Linked DNA regions of Homo sapiens: region 1 is linked to region 2. Evidence: fine-mapped expression QTL. Tissue or cell type: sun-exposed skin. Region 2 holds a variant in brackets; the other region holds the start of a gene. All regions are shown on one strand. Distances are between the middles of the regions.

What was found. PIP is the estimated chance that this variant, and not a neighbour inherited with it, causes the effect.
Region 1: SLC1A3 starts here. The variant in region 2 is fine-mapped to the expression of SLC1A3 in sun-exposed skin (GTEx, PIP 0.99). The same link has a PIP of 0.9 or more in esophagus mucosa.

What each region holds. Positions count from the first base shown.
Region 1 is chr5:36,602,273-36,610,375 of GRCh38, reverse strand. SLC1A3 (solute carrier family 1 member 3) reads right to left here and starts at 3,770. Exons shown (of 10, transcript NM_004172.5): 1 at 3,641-3,770; 2 at 1,772-2,047. The coding sequence starts at 1,952. RefSeq lists an enhancer at 3,564-3,663.
Region 2 is chr5:36,448,970-36,457,077 of GRCh38, reverse strand. No RefSeq gene overlaps it. Among named protein-coding and RNA genes, the nearest start is that of RANBP3L, 150 kb to the right of the region's middle. The variant G/C (reference allele first, on the strand shown) is at 4,355.

The sequences.
Region 1 (8,103 bases), 150 kb before region 2:
GAAGTGGCTTAATGGTCTATAGGAGAACTGTAAGTTTTCTTTTGAGGTAACCGGGTAAATCATGCAGTTAAATGACAATGCTGTGTGAATGCACTGCTAGCTAACTGGCCTTCATCAACTCATGAGGGTATTTCTCTTCCTGGCATCTCTTAAAAGATGTCAACTAGCAGCAGAGCAGAGGAAGAATAGAGTGGTTAAGAGAATGGCCTCCGGTGCTAGACTGAATTTGACTTCCAGCTCTAGAGTTTACTAGTGTTGTCACTTTGGGCAAATTGCTTGATCTCTCCACAGTCAGTTTCATCTACAAAATGAGGAAGATCATAGTAATCATACCTTCTCACTCGCTTCATAGGCTTGTTTGAGGATTAAGTGAGCTAATATAAACAAAACTCCTACAGAGTAGCTGGAATAGTACTATATAAATGTTTGCAATTATTATTATGCAGCTATTGCTTGGCTTGGCAATGACTTTGATTCAGAGTGACAAATGAGGCAAGCAGACTGTATTTTGCATTGACTTCCAGGACAATGATGTGGGACTGAAATATTTCACCCAGGAATATATTCAAGCCTGGAAACCTACTGTGGAAAGCCATTACTTCTCTGGGTCAGTTAGGACATGTTCTCTTTGAATATCTCTAAATTAATTGAACCATCATTAATCACCAGTGATTACTAATGGAAGACAATGATGTTAAAATGGGATGTATCTAAAATCTTGTGACAAACTCTCCTGCTATACTTCATTTGTCTACAATTTAAGAATTCAATTTTCTTGAAAAAAGTTATATTTACACACTACAGAATTTTCTTAATCTTTATTAAATCATTACCTCTTTAAAGTTGATGGAAATCTTGGCAAACTCCAAAGTAGAGATTAAAACGGTACTGAATGCCTCTTTTTTGGTGGCAAATTGGTAGGTTAAGTTGGAATATTTTTACAACCTGGCATTGGCGTATATGTTTGTCAATCTAAGGATTTCTGTATTGGTTTGGTCAAAAATTCCAAATAAGTAGGTTTTTTCAGCTATATTTTAAAGTAGGATCAATGCCACCCATAAGTAATAAACTATAACTTTTAAGATCAATAAACAAAACAAAACAATAATATTTTATTAGTACAGATTGCTGTCAACCCTGCTAAATTAGTAAGAGATGGAAATGATTCAAAAAAAGGTATAGCTGGTTATGGCAGGCTCTGCAAAGCAATGAATGAAAGAGATCTGTGTTAACATTTTCCCCAATCTACCTTTCCCAGTTGCTGGGTGAGAGAGTGCAAACACATAAAATATTCGGTCTCTGTGCCTAAGCGTTGATACTCAGCTTCAAGTCAGCACCAGTTAGAATATAATTACTATTTGGAACCAACATGTCATTTTAGGTGTACTAATTGTATAAATTAGTTTTAAGTGCAACTGACATTGTATATAATTACATTTTGGCCAAATCTAGCATGCTTGCTTTGTCATGCCTAATGATTAAATGATCACTTCCTTATCCTTACATGAAATGGGAAAATATTTTATTTATTTTTCTTCCTCACACAATTGATTTGCATAATGCCTAATGATGCCTAATGATGTGTTTACTATATATTGCTCCAAACAAGCCAAAACAGTCATTTTTATGGAGAAAAATCATCAAGTTCAGAGGAAAGCCTAGGCTACCATTTTGATACCTACAACTAGTTCATCTGATAATATTCCCCGGGCAGCCAGATGCCCCAGAGAAACAAGATACAGGTTTTTTTGTTTTTAATCAAATGACTCACCCACAATGACAGCGGTGACTGTGAGCAGCACAAAAGCATTCCGAAACAGGTAACTTTTAACATCCTCCTTTGTAATGTTCTGCACTTTCTTCTTGGCCAAAAGTGTGCGTTTACGGACTCCCTGCTGGAATCTCTCCATCCTGCCCCCCATCTTGGGCTCTTCTCCATTGCTTTTAGTCATATTTTACTTTTCTAGGAGGGTCTCTTCTTTGCACTTCAGTGTCTGGGAATCACCCACAGAAAGCCAAACCTCCTCTTTGGTATTAGAAAACACAACTAGAATGGGAGAAAAAGAGACATGAGTTATAGCCTCCAGGGGTGAGAAATCAGTGCTGCTCCACACCAGGCAAGCTCTTGGCAAATTGCATAATCTCAGCAGGAATCAAGGACTGGAGAGCCACAATACCAGACCTCAAGGTTGCAGTGTGCATATTTTAGTGGACCACGTGTGAGAAATGTGCATAAATTCGGAATATATTCTATTTTCTTTTTAAAAATCCGTCCTTCCCCTTCCAATGAGGCTATAAAAGGGTTCTTCAGAGCTAGATCTGACTGAGAACCCCTATTCCCACCCTCCCCCGCAGAACCCAGCTGATGCCTTGCACAACGTACACAATCAGTAAATGTCCAATTGAACTGAATGCACAGAAAGTATTCAATCATTACTTGACAAATTATGCTGTATACATGGTTGAAAGCATAACCAGGTCAATAAAAATAATTAAGATACTGATAGGTGGGAGTTGTCTCTGTTACATGCAGTAAAGTAACCAGCTATTTTCTTCATTAAGAAAAAAATATAATAATATCTACTAGTAAATATGGTCATAAAAAGAACACAAGTGCCCACAGTACATGGGAAATACATGTGACTATTTTACAGGGTAATTTTTTCATTTTTTTTCCATGAAATAAGCAAAGTGCTCTGGGCACATCTATAAATCATCTGAAATCACAATTCAGCTTCGTTTATCACAAGTAGAAGTATGAAGTAGTGTTTTTCTTTGTGACACACATGCTGGAATCTTCCGAGGAAACTATCGCTGACTTTTTAGCGTTTTAAAATTTAGGATTTCTAGAACAGATGAGATGAAACCAATTTTCATTCCAAACATTACAGCTTGTGGTTTCTGGTTTCTTTAAAGCACTCACGCTATTTAACTACATTTCAGTAAATCTCTTTCCTGGTGGAAATCAGCTGTTCTGAAAAATCAAGGGATTCCTCCTGGTGCTTTACAGGAGCTCTAATCCATAGCCCTTCCCATAATCAATCCGAGTGAAAACCAGCCGTACCATGGATGTGTGTCGCTGCCAACGCAAGCAGCCAGCGTGTGCGCCTGTGGGGGAGGTAACTGGAAACCAAAGGACTCCTCGCAAATGACTTCTCGCAATCCCAGTGCAGGAAAAAAAAAGACTTGTCTTAACAGTTTGCCTTTTAAATAAAATTGCAAGTTGGGGTCAGTGATACTAAGACTTCTAATTTGTTTAAGACTTCACACTGGATTAAATGCTTAGGGAGAAGTGAAGACCGGGAAATAGGAGAGACCAGATTTTTTTTTTTTTTAAACTAATAGCTCTGATTCCTCTTACCAGTCACTTTTAAGCAGATCCGCTCAACCTTGATCCTTTTCTAGATCTCGCGCCACAATCTGCCCCCAATCCACCCCGAATGACTCAACTCCGAATTAACAGCGGACCCGGCATAAACAGACACCACACTCTCACGACGTGAGATGACTAACAAGGACTTTATCTACCAAAATGGCTAGCCTTGATTCAGGCTACTCCTCTGCTTGGAAGGCAAAATACATCGGCAGAGAAGTGAAAGGAGAAATTAAACCCAGCAGGAACACAGAATGTGACACTTACCTTTTCTGATTTTGTAAGGGGTGGAAGATATCAAGCAGTAACGAGGTGAATTCCCCAGCAGGTACAACGGAGCAACAATCCGCAGCGCGCGTAAGCAGGCAGGCTAGCCCTGACAGTGTGCATGTGCTCTGAAACTGCAAGTTACTATCAGGGCAACTTAAGAAAAGGGGAGGAGTCTGTGCCCGGGAAAGGAGGAGTGGGGAATGGAAACCGCACAGGGAGGAGGGGGAAACCCCGAGGTTTCTGGAATATTGATTAATCTTGGCACACCAGAAGCAGGCTTGCTGGCTTTGTTTTGCTCCTTAGACCACTTTCACGCTTTGTCAGTTCACTGTCATTAGAAATGCAAAACCGGGACTAGGAAGAATTGAAAAATAAAGCGCACACAATCGGAAAGCTGAAAGTCTTGATTAGAACGTTTCAAAGACTTTTCTAAGGCTAAATTTAATTACCTCACATTATTGCATGTTTCCTCCCTTTCAGGGAAGACGAGGGTGTGCTCTTTAGCCTGGTTGTACAACTGTTACGAGAAAGTTCCTTTTTCGAATCGGGGAATTAACTGACGTTTCTTGGGAAGACACTGAATGCAGACAAGTATGTAGAAAAAAAATAATGCTTACTACGATTCTCTAAATTTGTCTAAAGTTAGGGACATGCCTCTATTTCAGCAGTTGAAACTTCAAAACTTCATTTTAACAAACCTAATTTAGCTCACACTGCCTGTGTTGCAAAGACGGAAAAGGTAGCAAATGTAAAGAGACTGGAATTTTTGCCAAACTAGAAAATGAAAAGCATTTTAAGACCAAGAGTGCAAAGTACACTTGAGATTTGGTGATTCAAAAGATAGGTTGCTGTTCAGATGTCTCCATTTTAAAGGATGCTAAATGTTCTCCCTACCACACACAACTTTTTTAGAGCTAAAAAATTCTCATTGCCTTGAGAAGGTAACTTGAGCTTCTAGTCCACTTTTCTTAAAAGAAAAATAAATTGTGAAAATAGATATTAGAAAATAAAAAAAAATTTTTTTGAGGTGACTTATTCCCAAAACTTAAATCTTCTTTAGAAGGAAGAAAATGGTTCATTAGAAACAAAAATTTATACCAGAATCACAGCCTGAGGTTTGGATTCTTGTTCACTGAATTTAATATTCCCCATGCAAAATATGCTCAATTCTTGGTCTATTATTCAACAAGAAAGTATGTCTTTTTTCCCCTCAATACAAATCTCTGGAGATCATAAAGAAATATCTCCTTTCACCCTCAACTGTATGTCCTTTTAAACAGCTACTGGTTGGAAAGCAATGGTGAATCATGTCAATGCTTTAAAATTACAAATCAGCAGCAATTATAACAGCTTTCTAACATGCTATCATTTTAAGAACTTACTGAAAGTACATGCTTTTGACATTCCCAGCCCTCAGTGACCCTTCCCTTCCTCTGATCTCCTAGGTCACTGAGCATCTATACTACATTGTTTAGCACTTAATTATACCATGTTTTGTACTGCATCCTTCTTTTTAAGCTCATGTTAAGTTTTGGTTTCTCAACTAAATTATAAGTTCTTTGAGGGCAAGAACTTGTCTTATACCTAATACAGAGTCAATATTAAGTAACTCTTTTTAAGTGGGTGGAATAATATTAGGATGTGAAACAAAACGCTTTTCAATCTTTTGTGTTAAAACACAATTACTAGTTTTTACATTGGTGCCTCTGGTTTAGGTGCATGGAGCCATTTCTCAATGCCATGACTACTTTTAAAAGCATTTATTTACTATACCAGGTCCTATCTGAGCCATGAGTTTAGGATTAATTTGCACACCCCCCCCCCCCACCGCTTTTTTTTTTTGGTGGAAATGACTTTGACTTGTATTGCAAGGGAACTCGAAAGAGAAATCTGATTTTAAATGGGGTTTCAAGCCCAGTGGCATTTCCATTTTTTGTTTTTATTTTTGTTAATAGGCAAGAAAAAGGGCTGGAAAACCACACTTTGGTTAGCATAGAGATGGGAAGACCCTGGTGCCCTTTCTTTTTCACTTTTTTTTTCCTCTCTAATCCCTAAAGCTTGGTTAAAAACCATTTCATTATTTCAGTTTGTGTAGACATTATGGGAGTCTGGTATTCTGTTGAGAAGGGAAGTAATTCACCACTGAAAGTTTTGTTGGCTGTAATAAAACCTAATGAGAAAATGAGATGCAAAGAGTCTCAGTTCAGAGTTCATCCAATTTTAGTCTGGAGGGAAACATTGGGAATTACTTCTTTAAGCACCACTTTCTCTTTCTGGAAAGCTATAGCAAAAGTCATGCCTGGGGGCCTCCTGGGTTTCCTCAACGCGTATTTCTACCTTTTCCCCTCTACTTTATAGTTAAGTCCCTTGAGCTTTAAAACATCTTTTTTTTTCCTTCTAGAAACACTAAATAAATGAAAGATCAAGAAATTATGAACAAGTCTCTGTATGCTGTATTTCATTTAAAGCTACTCAGGGTGGGAGACACAGAAGCTGGGGGATCATATTAATGTTAGTATTATCAAATGAAAAAAACACAAACACCAGCAGCAAATGCTGTTCCTGCTGAAAAAATCTGTCAAGATCTTTCTGTGAACATTGTGTGATGAAGTATGTTATCAGTAAATTCTTTCTTTGGGAAAAAATGTCAGTATAACAAGAAATAACCAAATCCAACCTGTCCTTAAAGGGAGCATTTATTGGTTTGAAGAACAAGAGATTACGGTAATAAGCACGTGCTGATCTTAGCATGGTACAGGCCAGTCAAACTTCACCATTCAAAATTAGGAAATTTTGGTTAATTGGATTTTTTTTTGAGCAACAAAATGGATTAGAAAACCTTTTAATCTTTTTTCAATATTTTCCAAGTTGATTTTTAATTTAATGATGGTTTTAAAATCATTCCTTGTTTAAATAGCTTGCATTTTAGGATCATCATGAATGTCAATTCTCCTCCTAGAATTTGGAAATTGTAGAATGCTAAGACAATGAACAGGACCTGACTTAACCCCAGAGTGTAACAGTGGATGTGTTAGAGGCAGTAGGTGTAGAAGAACTTGTGGTAGTTGTCTTCCATTTTGTTTTGATTTTTTTTTCTTCTTAAATATGAATGTAAAAAGCAGAACAACAAAAAAACCTGTGGTGAAGTCTGGTTAGTTGAATTTTTAAATAACTAGGTTTTATTTTAAAGTTATAGTCATATGAAACCTAAAAACATCCAACTACAGAGAGGTGAACTAAAATTAACTTTATCACATTCATTTATTCTTTCAACAAACATTGAGCAACCACTGTGTTCCAAATACCAGTTTCTTTCCTCAAGGAGTCCATAAACGCATCGTAATTATTAAGCAGTGGGCCAGGACAGGGCCCAACAGAAGGTTATGAGATCGCTGTGTGCTGAGGCCTATTTACCAGTTAGTATGTCAAAAAGACTGGTAGCAACTTAAGAGAAGGGGCTGTGCCTGGATCCACATTGTGTACACTGTTTCTAGCAGGTGCCTGCCCATAGCAGCCATCGTGTGGCATGGCAGGGAGCCAGTAGTGGTTCCTGCTGGAGAACAGGCCAGTAGGGGCCGAATTTACAACTTGAACTCCACTCCTAGTCAATGGGGAGCCAGCCACAGGATTTAAGCAGGGAAGTAATTTTCGTTTTAGGTAAAATGCAAAGCCTTGAAGTGACTAAGACTTGGGTTAGGAAGTCAAGGGGCAGGAGGAGCATTTACAAACTAGGTGAGTTCACATTCACACTGAAAAATACTGACCATTTGAGAATATCAAGGCCCTTGAAGGGGTCGGCTGACACTGAGCCAAGGCTGCCTCCTGTAGGTGGAGTGTGCACTCTCCAGCCCACTTGTCCTGCTCACTTCACTCAAGTTAGTTATCAGCATGTGGCTCTAGCAAGTTCTTCTGTTTTGACCTCTGATGGGGTTTCAGAAGAGGACTGAGCAAGGGCAGAAGCCTAGGGAACACCAACACAAAGGTGAAGACCAGCAAGAGGAACCCCCCCAAATAGATTCCCACGTGGCAAGAAATTACACCAACTGTTATTTTTCTCACAAGTGATCCAACAGGTGGACATAATGATGCCTTAAAAAACAACATGTTTTCTCCATTCTAAAGCTAAAGAGGGTCTGCTTTTTAATGAAGGCTTCACACATGTTATTGTTATCAATTATTATTTATATTGAAAAGTGACATTTTCCCCAGTTGCTCAACATGAGTCAAGACTTTGTAGAACCAAGAATATCCGTTTAGCTGGAAAAGATTATGTAGGTTGATTGGAATTGAAGCCTTCAGCAGACATGTTTACAGGGCTTTATAGTTTTTTAAGTACTTCTACACACATTATCTAATTTAATCTTCGTGATAATACTTTGAGGTCTATTCTACTCTATTATTACTGGTCCTGTAGACCCAGATGTTGGAGATCAGTAGGGATTGAGTAATATGCTGGGGAT
Region 2 (8,108 bases):
ATGCCCAGCTAATTTTTGTATTTTTGTAGAGATGGGGTTTCACCATGTTGGCCAGGCTGGTCTTGAACTCCTGACCTCAGGTGATCTGCCTGCCTCGGCCTCCCAAAGTGTTGGGATTACAGGCATGAGCCACCATGACCGGCCTCTCATTTCTAAAATACCTATTTCATGTCCTTGTTCTAACTGGCTCCTCCCTCAAGACACTGCTCCCCTGCAGCCCTCTATACAGGTCACTGGTTTTTCAGCCACGTGCCTGGCGCCACAGGGCCTGGAATAGGATGAGTGTCTTCCTTGCATCTCAGTGCTGCTCCCAAGCCATTGTCCCATATCCTCCATAAAAACACCCAGTTTCAACATGGGACTATGTTGTCTGCCACCTTCCTTCCTTTTGGCAACCATCTGCTGGCTCTAACATCACTTCCCTTCCCTCCTGGATCACCGTCATTTTTCTATCACTACACCCATTGTATTTTTGGTGATTTCAATATCCACACAAATAAGTCTTCCCATACACTGAGCTTTCAGTTTCTCAGCCTCCCCTCCTCCAACATCTCATCCTCCATTCTACCTCAGTCACTCACTCCTATGTTCATGCCTCCTGGGCCCTGTTTTTATCAGTAATCTTACCCACTCCAGAATCTCAACTTCAAGAATCCCAATATTTGACCACCATTTCTTATATTATTTGTTTTATTTACATCTACTTGTTTTCCTTTACCACATCATTTCCTTATCCCCTCTGCATGAAGAATTACTATCCCAAATTTTATGCTTTTAATTCTCTTGATTTTTAAAATGAATTTATCATATATGTATGTATTCCTAGGCAGTAGAGTGCTTAGTTATTTTGAACATCATAAAAATGATATTGCATGTAGTCTGTTGTAGTGCGTATTGTCTACTATATGCATGTGGTCTATTGTAACTTGCATGTTTTACGTATCATTATGTATGATACGTAAAAACCATACACACATTACGTATACTATATATTGTATTCATGCATACCATACATACAACATCTCCATGCTGTTGTGCATAGCTGAAGTTTGTTTTTACTGCTGTATAACATTCTATGGTGTGAATTTACCAAAATATATTCACTCATTTTTTTTTTCTGTGTACCATTTCCACATTTTTGGTATCATTAACTCTTCTTCTGTAAGTAACTTGTACTTGTCTCTGGTGCATATTTGCAAAAGTTTTTCTAGAAGCACAGTTAATGAACCAAAGAGCATAAGCATGTTCAATTTTGCACAATGATGTTACATTATTTTCTAAAATAATTGTACATCATTTTTCATTATTCCAGGTCACTTCCACTAAATTCTGATTTTTTTTTTTTTTTTTTTTTTTTGAGATGGACTTTCACTCTTGTTGCCCAGGCTGGAGTGCAATGGCACGATCTTGGCTCACCGCAACCTCCGCCTCCCGGGTTCAAGTGATTCTCCTGCCTCAGCCTCCCGAGTAGCTGGGATTACAGGCATGTGCCACCACACCCGGCTAATTTTTTTGTATTTTTAGTAGAGACGGGGTTTCACCATGTTAGCCAGGATGGTCTTGATCTCCTGACCTCGTGATCCACCCGCCTTGGCCTCCCAAAGTGCTGGGATTACAGGCGTGAGCCACCGCGCCCGGCTAAATTCTGATTTTTAAAAGCCTAGCCAAGTCTAGGACCTATAATGATTGATTGCACTGTCTTTTTACACTCTTCATTTTCAGTGTACCAAGGCTATATTCCATGGTATGTCATAATATTTATTCTTTTGCATACACCTTCAATTTCCTTGCCTCTTCTTCCTTTATCGTGCTCACCTGGCAAAACGCTAGTTCCAGCGACAGCCAAATCTCTGCTGGCTCTGTGCCTGCACTCACGCAGGGGAATATGGCTGCAGGTAACTACGCAGCTATGCTGACTGTTCTCACATTACATTTATGGCCACAAGTATCATTAGCCTCTAAGATACTTGTCAATCAGACTATACTTTCCTGGTCCATTAACTCTCCCATGCATCTATTTGGTATCTTCTTATTTCTCCTTAACCTCTATTACATCTTGCTGCACCTTCACTGTCAGCTGATGACCTTGTCACTGAGAAAATGAAAGCAATCAGAAAAGAACTACCATTGGCTTTGTTATAAATAAAGTTTCGGTGCTGCAAAAGAAATAGCACTTGAATATAAAATTTTCTTTTTAATTCTCAGCAAGGCAAGTTACTTCTATAGAAGGGTGCGCCCTTACAGATGGAGCAATGGTGAGTGCACACTTGGACAAGGGAGGGGAAGGGGTTCTTATCCCTGACGCACATGGCCCCTGCTGCTGTGTCGTTCCCCTATTGGCTAGGGTTAGACCGCACAGGCTAAACTAATTCCGATTAGCTAATTTAAAGAGAGTGATGGGGTGAGTGATTTGGGGGGATAAATGGTTATGACAGAGCAGGTAATGAGTCAGGGTTGAGCAGGTAATCAGAATGCGTCAGGGTGGAGCAGATAATTGAAAAAGGTTGCTTTATAAGGAAGTTAAGTTTAAAAGTAGAAGGCAAAGTATTGAACATACTGACATATTGATTTTTTGAAAAGAAATTTAGACCCCATATCTAACAGCTTCCACTTCTATATGGACTTCTCTACCTTCATCTGTGCCCATTGTGTTTTCTATTGCTGTGTAACAAATTATCCCAAAACTTAGTGGCTTAAAACAACACCAATTATTATCTCATAGTTTCTGTGTGTCAGGATCCAAGGCACAGCTTAGCTGGGTCCTCTGATTCTGCATCTCCTGGTATCTTTCTTTTGCAGCTGAGTGCCAGTATGCTTTGACCATTAAATAGGCAAGTTACGCCCTGGCCATTAAGGAAGGACTTACTACTAAAATGGACTGGATGGGAAAAGACACACATCTTCTCATCTTCCTATAGAATACACACTGGGTAAAAGAAATATAGTACTTTTAATAAATTATAAAACTCTTTGAAGTTAAACTATTTTTTCTTAAATTGTCTTTGCAGTATTGGGAAAATCTAAAAGACATCTGGAAAAAAGAAAATGGAATTCTTGCCTCAAGTAAGGCCAAAATTATTTGAAGATGGATCAATGATTTAACTAGAAAAAAAGAAAGTATAAAATTCCAGAAAAAAAAATTTTTCTAAATTATCTCACAATAAGAAAATTTTTCTTCCAAGTAGGACAAAAAACCTAGGAGTCATATAAAAAGGATTGATAAATTTGATTGTATAATAATAAAAATATCTACATGGTGAGAAAAAAATAAACAAAATGAAATGAGAAATTAAAACCAGGATAATATTTTCAATGCATATCAAAAACAAAGGGCATACACATAATTCTAAAAGAAGTGACAAATCAGTAAGTCAAAGATCATTAAACTAATAGCAAAACAGACAATTGAGAAGATGCTCAAATTCATGTATAATTAGGGAAATGAAAATTACAACTACAGTGAATATACTTACTTTGTGTTAGATATAATTTGCAGAAGGATAGCAGAAGTGCAAGAAATGACATAAGTACAAGGATATTCACTGGAGAGCCTGGCACAAAGTGAGTACGGGTAAGTATTGGCTAAATAGATGCTGTTTGTAATAGCAAGATTAGAAACAAACTCCATGATCTCCATGTTCCCAAAGAGGATACTGACAACACATGGTACAGTTCAAAGAATGAGGCACTGAAAGTACTGATATAGAATGATTTCCAAGGTTGAAAATTGAAAAAAGCCAGCCTGGACAACATGGTGAAACCCTGTCTCTACTAAAAATACAAAAATTAGCCGGGCATGGTGGCGCACATCTGTAATCCCAGGTATTCTGGAGGCTTAGGCACAAGACTCACTTGAACCCGGGAGGCAGAGCTTGCAGTGAGCCGAGATTGCGCCACTGCACTCAAGCCTGGGCAAGACTGTCTCAAAAAAAAAAAAAAAAAAAAAAGAAAGAGAAAAATAAATTGAAATTGAAAAAAGCAAGATGCAGAAACATATGTATAGCATGCATATTAATTACATAATAGAAAAGATATAGGCATACTTGTAAATGCATGGTCTATCTCTGGAAATATTCACTAGAAATAAGGAGGACTGCCTCCAGGGAGAACTAAGTGGCTGAATGACCGTGAAGGAATGTAGAATACTTTTCATTGCATACACAGCCCCGCTTTTGTCTTTCATGTGCATCTGTTATTTAAATGAATGAAAACACTTAAAAGTCAAATAGTTATCATTTTAAAAGAACTGAAGAAAAATAGTCTATAAGCAACAGCGTAGGAAAATATAGTATTGCTGAATGAGTTGCTACTTAATTTATGTGTTTAAGAGGACAGGGAGGAGTGGTTTTATATG[G/C]AAAAACACAGACATTGCCTAGGGTTATACAGGATGGAAGCCAGATATTCTGAATCCACCTCTTGCTTTTGACTTGGCTGCTGGAGCCTGAGGCAAGTGAATTAAGCCAGTCAAATCTGGATAATAGTACTTAATGATCAAGCTCTCCACTACATTGTGAAAATCAATTACTTGATGTTGGTAAAACGCTTTGAAGGTGTCATGCTCCAAGGTGCAAGACAGAGCCTGTTCAGACCTGTATGCTGTCATGGGAACTGAGGCTCTGGAGTCAAGACTTTGAGGAAACTTCCAATCACTGTTCAGTGAAACCAATGTTTTTAAAGTGCCAGTGCTCCCAAATGTGTCTTCCATGTGCGTGCCCAGAGAATCAGCCTATTTTATGTGTTTTTTTTTTCATTCCTGTCTTACTTTTCTACACAGTGCCAAAGGTCCATTAAGGAAATTGTAATCCAATGATTTCCAAAAAATGAGTTATTTTCAAAGAAGAGAAGCAAGGGTTAAGACCAGGCTGTGCAATTCAGTAAGAAAATTACAAACCCTTCCAGAAATTACAGCGAGTTAGGGATTAATGTCGGCTTTTGAACAATACGTATTAAATTAGTCTGTAGAAATACAACATTCTCAGAGAAATGCACAGTCTAAGAAAAGCAGACCTGTGGAAATGAGAATGTTAGTAGATAATTCTCCATCAGTCTCTCACATTTCTGTACATCTTGCAAGGAATGCGCTGATTATCCTCTTTCCTGGATTATCTTTTCAAATACATTTTTATAGTTAACAGCCTTAGAAAATAGAGTTAGTGTCTTTCTCCAGAGCAAATAGTAGGTTTGCTTACTGCACTTCATAAAAGATTTGAGTTCTCTACATTCAAAGTTTTTCTCCTGTAATGCAATACGCTACATGTATAGGTGTCATCTGGCCCTGTGGAAATTGGGGCTTGGTGAGGTGGTACAAATATGCTGATACTCTGGCTACCGCTATTGCTGTCAGTTATAAACTATCCTTTGTCTTTGACACAGGAGTCTGGTGTCTTCTACCGGCATCCATGAAACTGTAGATGGGTGACTTCTTAGCTTGCAAGTGGGATAAAATCTCAAACTCTTCACAGTTCTTAAGAAATAATTGTTCTCTAGACGACTGCTATGTGAAAGAAATACAATGCAGGCCACTCATGTGAACCAAAACATAATTTTAAACTTTACAGTAGCCACATTAAAAAGCTAAAAGAGGCTGGGTGCGGTGGCTCACGCCTGTAATACGAGCACTTTGGGAGGCCAAGGCGGGTGGATCACCTGAGGTCAGGAGTTACAGACCAGCCTGGTCAACATGGCAAAACCCCATCTCTACTAAAAATACAAAAATTAGCCAGATGTGGTGGCACACACCTATAATCCCAGCTACTTGGAAGGCTGAGGCAGGAGAATCTGGGAGGTGGAGGTTGCAGTGAGCCAAGATTGCACCACTGCACTCCAGCCTGGGCAACAGAGTGAGACTCCGTCTCAAAAAAGAAAACTAAAAGAAACAGGTAAAATTAACTATAATAATATATTTTGTTTAACACGATACATCAAAAATATTGCCATGTAACCCATATGAAATTATTAATGAGCAATTTTACTTCCTTGCCTAGCATGAAGTCTTCAATATCTGGGGCATTTTTTATACTTACAGCTCATCTCCACTGGGACTAGCCACATGTCCAGTGCTCAAAAACCATGAATGGCCAGTGGCTTCCATTAAGAACAGTGCAGCTCGAGTTTACAACATACAGTAAAATGAAAACAAAAGTTTGAAGGCCTAAAATAGGTTTTCCTTAAAAAAAAAAAAATCAAAGCCAGAATGTCAATGATATTGTTCACTGGGCCCATTGCTCCTGAGACTCTGAGGCATGTTCTGCATGTTCCAAAGTTTAAGCCTGACAGACTTGTCAGGACATTCTTCATCCATTACTTAATCCTCCTGTGCCCTTTAAGGTACATTCAGGATTGTTGTTTCTTTTGCAGCTGACTGTAATAAGATAGGAATGTAGGATAAGAGTCATTAAAGACAAATTTAATACCAATCTATCAAGCCAGAGATTGAAATTTAAATGTACCTTATTTCCCTTCCAGTTTTCTCCTTTGAGAGGTTTATCTACCCAGACAATGCGTGGGAGTGGGGGCTGGATAATCCTAACCTTAGCTCAAATTATATTAATGTTTGAATAGGAAATTGGGTATTCACCCAATTTTGACAAAGGAAAAATTTCAGTCTCAGAAAGCTTAGTCTCAGCTTGCTCATCTAACCTGCCTTGTTCACAGGATGACCACGTGATCATATGAGTGAGTAGCAGTGATGGGCATTGACAAGGGAAGACAGCACTTGACATCTAAGGTGCCATGATGCTGAATATAATGATCTGTCCTTACTAGAATTTTTTCTAAACAGCATTCTTCAGGACTCAGAATCTTGCATGGATTTGATTATGGTAAAATAAACAGCTGCCAAAACTTTTCATCATTTGGGCTGAGGAGATGTCAGCCCAAATAATGCCAGCGTTTAAAAATAAGAAATATGAGTTTATAGGAATCACATGCATTGCTCCTCACATGCTTATATCCTCCAAAGATGGCAAAATGGTAGAAGTTAAAGGAATTTTTTTTAATCCTCAAATCTCACAAAAATCCAATGTTTGGAAAAGACTTGGATAAAAATATTGCAATATTATAAGATTAAGTTCTAAAATATATACGACAGAATCCTTTTTGAGACAAAATTCACATAGGGAAGAGACGCTTCAGTTTCTTAAATAAATAAGCAAATCAATCAGTCAATCAATCTCTTTTTAAGGGTCCCATAACATTGGTAGTGGTTGAGTTAAATAATGATATAAAATGGCCAGGTGTGGTCAGGCACCTTGGAGAATAAATATCACCCTTTAGATCCTGGGCCCCAGACACTGCAGGGCCTCCCCATGGGTAGGTGGAAGAAGGAATCCTGAGTCCCAATCTGAGCACTTGGGAGGATTCACCTCCACGTATGTCTTCTACCTACCCATGATCTATCATTACCCACGTCATCCTGTCCCATTCATGAAGCCAGCATTTGGCCTAAGACCCTCACAGAGGTCCTGCCTCTCCCTCATACTTCTACTCAAGAATTATTATCAAGTCCCCTATGTCACATTTTGTGCCCTTCTTTTTTATCCAGTACCCTGACCAGCCATCGCTTGCCTCAAGTTTCTTACCATGTCTTCTACTGCCCTGTGTCCCAGTAGCACCAGTTTGTGTTTCACGCGTGGGCTTTGGCCAAATATGTCCCGTGTTCTGGACCACTCATCTTAGCACCTGGCCTCTTCCAGACTCAGCTTGCCCTACTTACAATTTGCCTTTAGTTACTGTGTGTCTGGGTAAGAGGCACCTCATCCTGAATCACCATCTAGTTGGGTATTATGGTAGGTAGCTATTGACTTTGCTGGTAGTCATTTGTTCCTAGTATGAGACAATGTTTCTCCCTCTCTTCTCCTCTCCTTTTCCTCCATCCAAATGACAGTGAGATCGAGTAAAAAGTCTATGGAATTTGGAGTTAACAAAAATGGTGTTGAATTGTAAAATGCCACCTTGGCAATTATCTCTAAGCTTGGTTTTTCACCTATAAATTGGGGATGATAACAATTAGTGCTCAGATACAGGTTTTTTTATGAGAATAAAAACATGTGAGGACAAGTGTGCAAGAGCCAGGCATAAAGTGATAAATGAACATGGCACGTTTGAGT